Linked DNA regions of Homo sapiens: region 2 is linked to region 1. The links come from fine-mapping of genetic effects on gene expression. A gene starts in region 1. The other region holds a variant in brackets. All regions are shown on one strand. Distances are between the middles of the regions.

Region 1 (4,510 bases):
TGCACACTTCAGGTAAGGGTTGCCCAGTTCCGAGTTGCACACATCGCCGATGTGCAGGAGCCACTGCCACACATTCCGGAGAGCCCTGGCTGGGGACAGCTGCAGGGTTGGCACCCAGGGCTGGAATCCTACAGCCTCTTCTCAGGGTTTTGGGGAACAATACCACAGTATCCAGGGCTGGAGAGGCCTGTGGTCAGGGACCTGGCTGTGCTGTGTCCAGTGAACACTAGCCAGCGCCCAGAAGGGGCCCAAAAAACCCTGGACAGGGTACAGGTGAGGAGACTGAATTTTTTTGTTTCTGTTTGTTTGTTTTGTTTTGTTTTGTTTTGAGATGGAGTTTCGCTCTTGTTGCCCAGGCTAGAGTGCAGTGGAGTGATCTCGGCTCATTGCAACCTCCGCCTCCTGGGTTCAAGAGATTCTCCTGCCTCAGCCTCCTGAGTAGCTGGGACTACAGCTGCGTGCCACCACGCCCGGCTAACTTTTTGTATTTTTAGTAGAGACGGGGTTTCACGATGTCAGCCAGGATGGTCTTGATCTCCTGACCTCCTGATCCACCGCCTCAGCCTCCCAAAGTGCTGGGATTACAGGTGTGAGCCACCGCACCTGGCCCCCCCGCTTTTTTTTTTCTTTAGAGATGGAGTCTCACACTGTCACCCAGGCTGGATTGGAGTACAGTGGCACGATCATAGCTCACTGCAGCCTCAAACCCCTGGGTTCAAGAGATCCTTCCACCATAGCCTCCCCAGTAGCTGGGACTACAGACATGTGTCATTACATCTGGCTAGTTTTATTTATTTTCTATTTTTTTATTTTTTATAGAGACAGGGTCTCGCCATGTTGCCAAGGCTGGTCTCAAACTCCTGGGCTCAAGTGATTCTCCCACCTCGGCCTCGCAAAGTGCTGGGATTACAGGCATGAGCCACCGCACCCGGCCAGGACTGGGTGCATTTTGAGTCCCCGGGATAGACATGCTAATGTGCTTACCTATGTGTTTCACACCATCCATGATTGACCGAAAGAACTTGCGGACCCGGTCAGCCACCTCTTTGGTCTTCCGGGCAATAGCTTTAATCTTGTTCAGGGCACCTGATGGGTGAGGGACAGAGGCACTTTGGAGTCTTCTCCTCTAGGGGCTGGTTCTCACCATTGCCCCTTAAGCAGGGAGTAGAGAGGAGGCCACCATTTCCAGAGGCGGGAAGCCTGGATTCTGGGGCCTGGGAGATCGTTAATCTGGGAGTGGAGGAGGCCAGAGAGCAAGGAGAGAGGGTTTAGCTGTGCCCAGAGTCCCTTCCAGGCCCAGATGCTCCGCGATTAGCACCAGCAGAGAAGGAGGCCAAAGGACTGTAGAACATGCAGGATGAGGGGGGCGAGGGGGGCCCGTGGGAGACAGTGGTAGAGGTGGGGGACTTACTGACAAGAGGTTGCTTGGCCCTCTGTAGCACTTCGGCGGTCTGGTTCAGGGCCAGCTCTGCCCCACAGGCTACAGCCTCGCTGGCCCGGGTGAAGTTGCGTAGAGTGTTGGCACAAGGCCCTTGAAGCACCAACCCAAAAGCAGCCACCAACAGTAGTGTCCGGCCCTGCCCTGGGGGCGACAGCTTTGTTAGAACCAAGACCCCAGCCCCAAACATGGCAGCAAGTCCCTTACATAAGCCTTCAGAATATTTCCCTTAACCCCTGCCTCTCCTCCAGCATCTCTTCTGCCCCAGCACCAGCCCCAGGACCTGCCCCCTAGCCCTGGGTGCCAAGCTCACTGGAGAAGGCCTGAGGCAGCAGCAGGAGGACAGTGGCTCGGACCTGGCGAGAGAATCCCATGCCCAGGCTAAGGAAGGCAGCCAAAGTGAGGGTGCCCACCAGGCAACCCCAGGGGCTGTGGCCTTCCACCAGTAGCTCCAGAAGCCCGTAGGCCGTGGCTAAAGACAAGCCCAGGGTAAAACCTCCCACGCTGCGAACCACAGCTCTCGCCATGCTAGGCTCCTCTCCCCCCAAGGGGTGCACAACATCCTTCATGACTTTGGGCATGGCTGCTGAGACCAAATGTCTGCCTGTCTCCAGGAGATGCCCGCTGACTTCTGTGCTCCTGGAATTTCTCACCGTATTCTAAGGTTCCAAAGGGCTTTCACTGCATATGTCTTGGAATCCTTGACCCAGTTCCGAGGACTGGAGAGGGGATAGGTAGGTCTCTAATCTCCTTCCCCACTTCTCGGAGCAGAAGGATTAAAAGGCCCAGAGCTCAGGCCTAGGCTTCCCATGAAGCGGAAGAGACAGGCAGCACCTCTCTTCTCTCACCAGAACCTTGTGTCCAAGGAGGTCCTTCAGGAGACCTGGGATGAGTGGTGCTTCCCCAAAACAGACTCATGGACATTAAACATCATCAGAATGGCACAAGAGGGCAAAGAAGAAAACAGCCTCATACCAGTGAGTCACTCAGCAGAGACCCAGTATCCCTTGACCTCCACTCTCATCCCATCTCTCCTCCTGGAACTCCTGCACACTATCCCCCAACTCGGTGTCCGCGCCTCCACCACCTCTCTGGTCTAGTGCCTCCCGCCTCCCAGCCCAGCCCTTGCCTTTGCTGTCCCTTACACCCATACCACTTCCTCAGGCTCCCTCATCCTCCTCCAGGGTCCCCTAAGTTCCTACTGTTTCACATGCCAGGTTTCCCCAGCCTCTATCCACCTGCAAGCCCTGAATCCTAATGAGCCCCATCCCAGGCAGAAGAGTGGGCTGTTGAGCTACCCTGTCCCCCTCTTAGCGGTGCAGAGGCTCCTGACCTGGGGGCTGCCAGTCTCCTGTAGCTGGTTCCTGTGGCGCCAGCCGGGCGAGTTTCCTGTCACTGCTCTCCTGCTGGGGGCAGGCGCTGGGGGGCTCCTGGCCATAGGTGAGTGTGGAAGCAGAAAGTTCGGGGTGGGCAGAGGCTGGACCAGGGCTAGGACCCATCTTTTGGCCTTTGGCTTGACCTTGTGCCCTTAGGTCTCTTTCAGCTCCTGGTGAACCCCATGAACATCTACGAAGAACAGAAGATTATGTTCTTGTACAGCTTGGTGGGTTAGTGCTGGGCAAAAGCCAGGAACACTCAAGCGGCCTGTGGAACACAGCGCCGTCCTGCATGCCCAGGAAGGAGTCGGGACTTGTTTCTTCTGTACCCATACATCCCCTGTGGCTTCCGCCTCCTCCTGGGCTTTACGGGGAGGTCCAGAGGGAAGAGGCTGCCAATTTAAGAAGGAAGACACCGTCCTTGCCCTGAGGGAGTCTCTCCATTCCGAGGGACTCCCCATCACCCACATGATATAGTCCAACCCCATAACCCTTCATAACTCTCATCTCTCCTGACCTGTCTGACCTCGTTTTCTGATCCTCCTAAGAAATTAAATTCATTCATTCATTCATTCATTCACTCAGCACTTACTGAGAATCTGCTGAGGATTTAGCAGTAAACAAGGATGACAAGCATCCAGCCGTTTTGCTTTGGTTTTGTTTGTATGTTTTTGTTTTCGTTTTGAGACGGAGTCTCGCTCTGTTGCCCAGGCTGGAGTGCAGTGGCTCAATCTCAGCTCACTGCAACCTCCACCTCCCAGGTTCAAGCCATTCTCCTGCTCAGCCTCCCAAGTAGCTGGGATTACAGGCACCCATCACCATGCCCAGCTAATTTTTGTATTTTTAGTAGAGACGGGGTTTCTGTATGTTGGCCAGGCAGGTCTCGAACTTCTGACCTCAAAAGATCTACCTGCCTCGGCCTCCCAAAGTTCTGGGATTACAGGTGTAAGCCACCGTGCCCAGCCCAGTTTGGATAATTTAACAGCTCAGTAGCTTCGAGAAGGACTCAGGTTCCTTCTGTCTTTTCTCTGCCATCTTCAGTCTATTGACCACTTCTCTTCAGGTCACAAGATAGCTGCAGCAACTCTGGCATCACATCTTCATACAATAATATCAAAGATCAGAAAAAAATAAAAAAAGAGGAAGAAACAGGCCAGGCACAATGGCTCACGCCTGTAATCCCAGCACTTTGGGAGGCTGAGGCGGGTGGATCACCTGAGGTCAGGAGTTTGAGACCAGCCTGGCCAACATGGTGAAACCCTGTCTCCACTAAAAATACAAAAATTAGCCGGATGTGGTGGTGCACACCTGTAGTCCCAGCTTCTTGGGAGGCTGAGGCAGGAGGCTTGCTTGAACCCAGGAGGCAGAGATTGCAGTGAGTGGAGATCGTGCCACTGCACTCCAGCCTGGGTGACAAGAGCGAAAGGCCATCTCAAAAAAAAGAAAAGAATAGAAGTTCAATCCCAGGCCCAACTTCACTGTCTTGGGCTGTGCGATTTGAGGCCAGGGAAAAAGGAAAATGACCTAGGTGACAGAGTGAAACTCTGTCTCAAAAAAAAAAAAAAAAAAAAAAAAGGAAGAAACATCCTTTCCTCATGTCTCTTTTTAGGAACAAGGGAAACTTGCCTATAATCCCCACAGTAGACTTCCTCACATCTCTTTGGTCAGAACTGCGTGCAACACATGCCCTTTCCTG
Region 2 (4,000 bases), 25 kb after region 1:
CAGGACCACTCCACCAGCATCCTGGGAGTCGCCTCCTCCATAGCCCATGAGTTGGGCCACAGCCTGGGCCTGGACCATGATTTGCCTGGGAATAGCTGCCCCTGTCCAGGTCCAGCCCCAGCCAAGACCTGCATCATGGAGGCCTCCACAGAGTAAGTAGCTGCAGGATGGAGAGAGGGTGTGGGGCAGGGGGCAGGGAGAGGCCCCCAGCCCCAACCTTCCTTGCCACCCTCCCCAGCTTCCTACCAGGCCTGAACTTCAGCAACTGCAGCCGACGGGCCCTGGAGAAAGCCCTCCTGGATGGAATGGGCAGCTGCCTCTTCGAACGGCTGCCTAGCCTACCCCCTATGGCTGCTTTCTGCGGAAATATGTTTGTGGAGCCGGGCGAGCAGTGTGACTGTGGCTTCCTGGATGTGAGCCCCTTTCCCAAAGCCTCGCCCCACTCACTTCTGTACCCTCACCCTGGCTCATTAGCCCTATCCCAGCCTCCTGAGCTCTTGGGTTCTGAAGGGACTTTCCACCCCTCTCCTACTTGCCCTGTCTGTGGGGACAGCACATGGGTTGTTGGGCTCTAGCCCTCGCTTGCTGTGTAGCTTCTGGTCTTGGCCTGTGGGAGGAGGAGAGATTGGAGGGAGGCTCACAGGCCCCACCTGCTCTGATGCCCGGCCCCCGTGCTCCTGCCCACAGGACTGCGTCGATCCCTGCTGTGATTCTTTGACCTGCCAGCTGAGGCCAGGTGCACAGTGTGCATCTGACGGACCCTGTTGTCAAAATTGCCAGGTGGGTAGAGACTAGACTGGCCACCCGGAGCTCACCTGCCGGGGCCAAGGTGGAAAGGGTCATTCTGACCCCCGGCTGGATTTGCTCAGTGCCCACACTGATGCTCATCCACCCTCCACAGCTGCGCCCGTCTGGCTGGCAGTGTCGTCCTACCAGAGGGGATTGTGACTTGCCTGAATTCTGCCCAGGAGACAGCTCCCAGTGTCCCCCTGATGTCAGCCTAGGGGATGGCGAGCCCTGCGCTGGCGGGCAAGCTGTGTGCATGCACGGGCGTTGTGCCTCCTATGCCCAGCAGTGCCAGTCACTTTGGGGACCTGGAGCCCAGCCCGCTGCGCCACTTTGCCTCCAGACAGCTAATACTCGGGGAAATGCTTTTGGGAGCTGTGGGCGCAACCCCAGTGGCAGTTATGTGTCCTGCACCCCTAGGTAAGTGAGGAAACCTGGCTCCTCCTTTGGGTTTCTGAGAGCCTTGGCCCTGCTCCTACTAACTCTGTGTGCCCTTCCCCCTCCCCACAGAGATGCCATTTGTGGGCAGCTCCAGTGCCAGACAGGTAGGACCCAGCCTCTGCTGGGCTCCATCCGGGATCTACTCTGGGAGACAATAGATGTGAATGGGACTGAGCTGAACTGCAGCTGGGTGCACCTGGACCTGGGCAGTGATGTGGCCCAGCCCCTCCTGACTCTGCCTGGCACAGCCTGTGGCCCTGGCCTGGTGAGCAGCCTGGGTGGGCAAGACCAGGTGTGAGAAGGGACATTTGGACCACAATGAACAGAGCCCAGACTTCACCATTCACCAATGTCAAAGGCAGGGACTCCAAGGGAAGTCAGTTTCTTACTTCAGATGGAGCAAAGTCCTATCAACTCACTATGCCTTGGTTTCCCCATCTGTAAACGCAGGGTATGGCCTCAACCTTATTGGCCTCCCAGTCCCATTAAAGCTTTGTGGGAATCTGATCCAGGCTCTTCTCTCCCTGGGTCAGGTGTGTATAGACCATCGATGCCAGCGTGTGGATCTCCTGGGGGCACAGGAATGTCGAAGCAAATGCCATGGACATGGGGTGAGCTGGGATGGGGGAAGTGGAAGGGGAGCAGAGAGCCTCTAGAGAGGAAAAGGATACTGGGCTTTGGAAATAGACATATCTGGGTTTTAATCCTTGCTCTACTACTTCC[C/T]AGTTGTGTGACCTCGGGCAGGTTACTAACTTTGCTGAGCTCAGTTTCCCCACCTATCAAATGGCTATAATAATAGTATCCCCATCCAGGGTACATGAGATGAGTATGAAAGCATCTAGCACAGGCTGGGCACAATGGCTCATGCCTATAATCACAGTTTTTTTGTTTGTTTGTTTGTTTTGTTTTGAGACAGAGTCTCGCTCTGTTGCCTAGGCTGGAGTGCGCTGGCGTGATCTCGGCTCACTGCAACCTCTGCCTCCCAGGCTCAAACATTACTCATGTCTCAGCCTCCCTACTCGCTGGGATTACAGTCACCCGCCACCATGCCCAGCTAATTTTTGTATTTTCAGTAGAGATGGGTTTCACCATGTTGGCCAGGCTAGTCTTGAACTTCTGACCTCAAGTGATCCTCCCGCCTCAGCCTCCCAAAGTGCTGGGATTATAGGGGTGAGCCACTGCACCCAGCCAAATCACAGTACTTTGGGAGGCCAAGGCAGGAGGATTACTTGAGGCCAGGAGTTCAAAACCAGCCTGGTCAACATAGTGAGACCCCCATCTCTTTCAAGGAAAAATTTAAAAATTATTCAGGCCTGCTGGTGCACACCTATGCTCCCAGCTACTTGGGAGGCTGAGGCAGGAGGACTGCTTGAGCCCAGGAGTTTGGGGCTGCAGTGAGCCATAATTGCACCACTGCACTCCAGCCTGGGCAACAGAGTGAGACTCCATCTTACTTGCTGTCTAAAATAAAATAAAATAAAACAAAACAAAACAAACACAAAGAAAGAAAGCATGTACCACAGTGCCCAGCACACAGAAGGAGCTCAGTAAGTGTTAGTTTGATCTAATTTGCTCTGGTATGGATAAAGACCCTCCCTCCGGGCTGTCTCTACACACATACCCAGCACAACCCCCAGTTGTAGAAATCTGAGATCTTGAAAAGCTAGAGACAAGGAAATAGTTCCAGAGTGCAGAGCTCCTCATTGCTCGCCTTGTACCTCCTAGGTCTGTGACAGCAACAGGCACTGCTACTGTGAGGAGGGCTGGGCACCCCCTGACTGCACCACTCAGCTCAAAGGTAGCATGGGGGTGGGGGACAGGGGCAGCTGGGAGGGCAAAGCGTCTCATGCTTTATCTTGCCCCCTCGGCCCTCTCTTTCTGACCCCCCTTTGCTGCTGGTTCCCTGAGTCTGTGCCCCTTGAACCCTTCACTCTCCCTGATCACTTGACTTCACTCCCTGCCCCCTGCGCCTTCATGGATCTAGAGTTCTTAGCCCCGTCCTCCCTTAAACCTGACTTCCGCCCACAGCAACCAGCTCCCTGACCACAGGGCTGCTCCTCAGCCTCCTGGTCTTATTGGTCCTGGTGATGCTTGGTGCCAGCTACTGGTACCGTGCCCGCCTGCACCAGCGACTCTGCCAGCTCAAGGGACCCACCTGCCAGTACAGGTATGAGCATCACCTCCCTGCTACCACTTCCTTCAACTGGGGACAGTGCTGAAGGCTGCCTCACCTCTGCAGCCCCTGCCACCTGGTTCTGAGCCCCAGGCCCCTTGGACCTTAAAGTTGCTGACTGCCATACCCCACACCTCCCTTCCCTATATGTGCCCACAGCTTTTTACCTCACAGCTGTGCCCCTGTGGGGTGGCTGGATTGCTAGGGCCATTTCTCCCCAGGAGCCCCTGTGCTGGATAAGTAGGGTCTTCCCTCAAGCTAATAAATACTGCCCCCCACCCCGGCCCTACCACAATTTTACCTAAACCACACATAAGTGCCTGCAAAGGGTTAACCCCACTCAGGGATGGCATATGGTAGAAAACAGGGTCTGAGGCTGGGCCCTCTCCCTTCTTGCCTTTCCTCATGCATAGGGCAGCCCAATCTGGTCCCTCTGAACGGCCAGGACCTCCGCAGAGGGCCCTGCTGGCACGAGGCACTAAGGTGAGTCCTGGATGCCAGAGGAAGGGGACTCCACCTTGGCCGGGCATCCAGCTTGGGCCCTGGGGGGTGCGCATTAAAGGCTCCAGACTCAGAGAAAGGCTAGCACTGCCCAAGAGT

What was found.
Region 2: its variant is fine-mapped to the expression of DCST2 in tibial nerve (GTEx, PIP 0.90).

The regions. Positions count from the first base shown.
Region 1 is chr1:155,031,683-155,036,192 of GRCh38, forward strand. It overlaps DCST2 (DC-STAMP domain containing 2), which reads right to left and starts at 2,099. Exons shown (of 15, transcript NM_144622.3): 1 at 1,752-2,099; 2 at 1,412-1,582; 3 at 985-1,086; 4 at 1-89. The coding sequence starts at 2,019. DCST1 (DC-STAMP domain containing 1) reads left to right here and starts at 2,142. Exons shown (of 17, transcript NM_152494.4): 1 at 2,142-2,172; 2 at 2,290-2,415; 3 at 2,753-2,878; 4 at 2,971-3,045. The coding sequence starts at 2,355.
Region 2 is chr1:155,056,950-155,060,949 of GRCh38, forward strand. It overlaps ADAM15 (ADAM metallopeptidase domain 15), which reads left to right. Exons shown (of 23, transcript NM_207197.3): 11 at 4-152; 12 at 239-413; 13 at 688-780; 14 at 902-1,206; 15 at 1,297-1,492; 16 at 1,761-1,838; 17 at 2,953-3,025; 18 at 3,256-3,394; 19 at 3,814-3,883. The region is part of intron 1 of DCST1-AS1 (DCST1 antisense RNA 1); the gene reads right to left. ADAM15-EFNA4 (ADAM15-EFNA4 readthrough) reads left to right here. Exons shown (of 26, transcript NR_176418.1): 11 at 4-152; 12 at 239-413; 13 at 688-780; 14 at 902-1,206; 15 at 1,297-1,492; 16 at 1,761-1,838; 17 at 2,953-3,025; 18 at 3,256-3,394; 19 at 3,814-3,883. Among named protein-coding and RNA genes, the nearest start is that of EFNA4, 4.8 kb to the right of the region's middle. RefSeq lists an enhancer at 1-598. The variant C/T (reference allele first, on the strand shown) is at 1,951.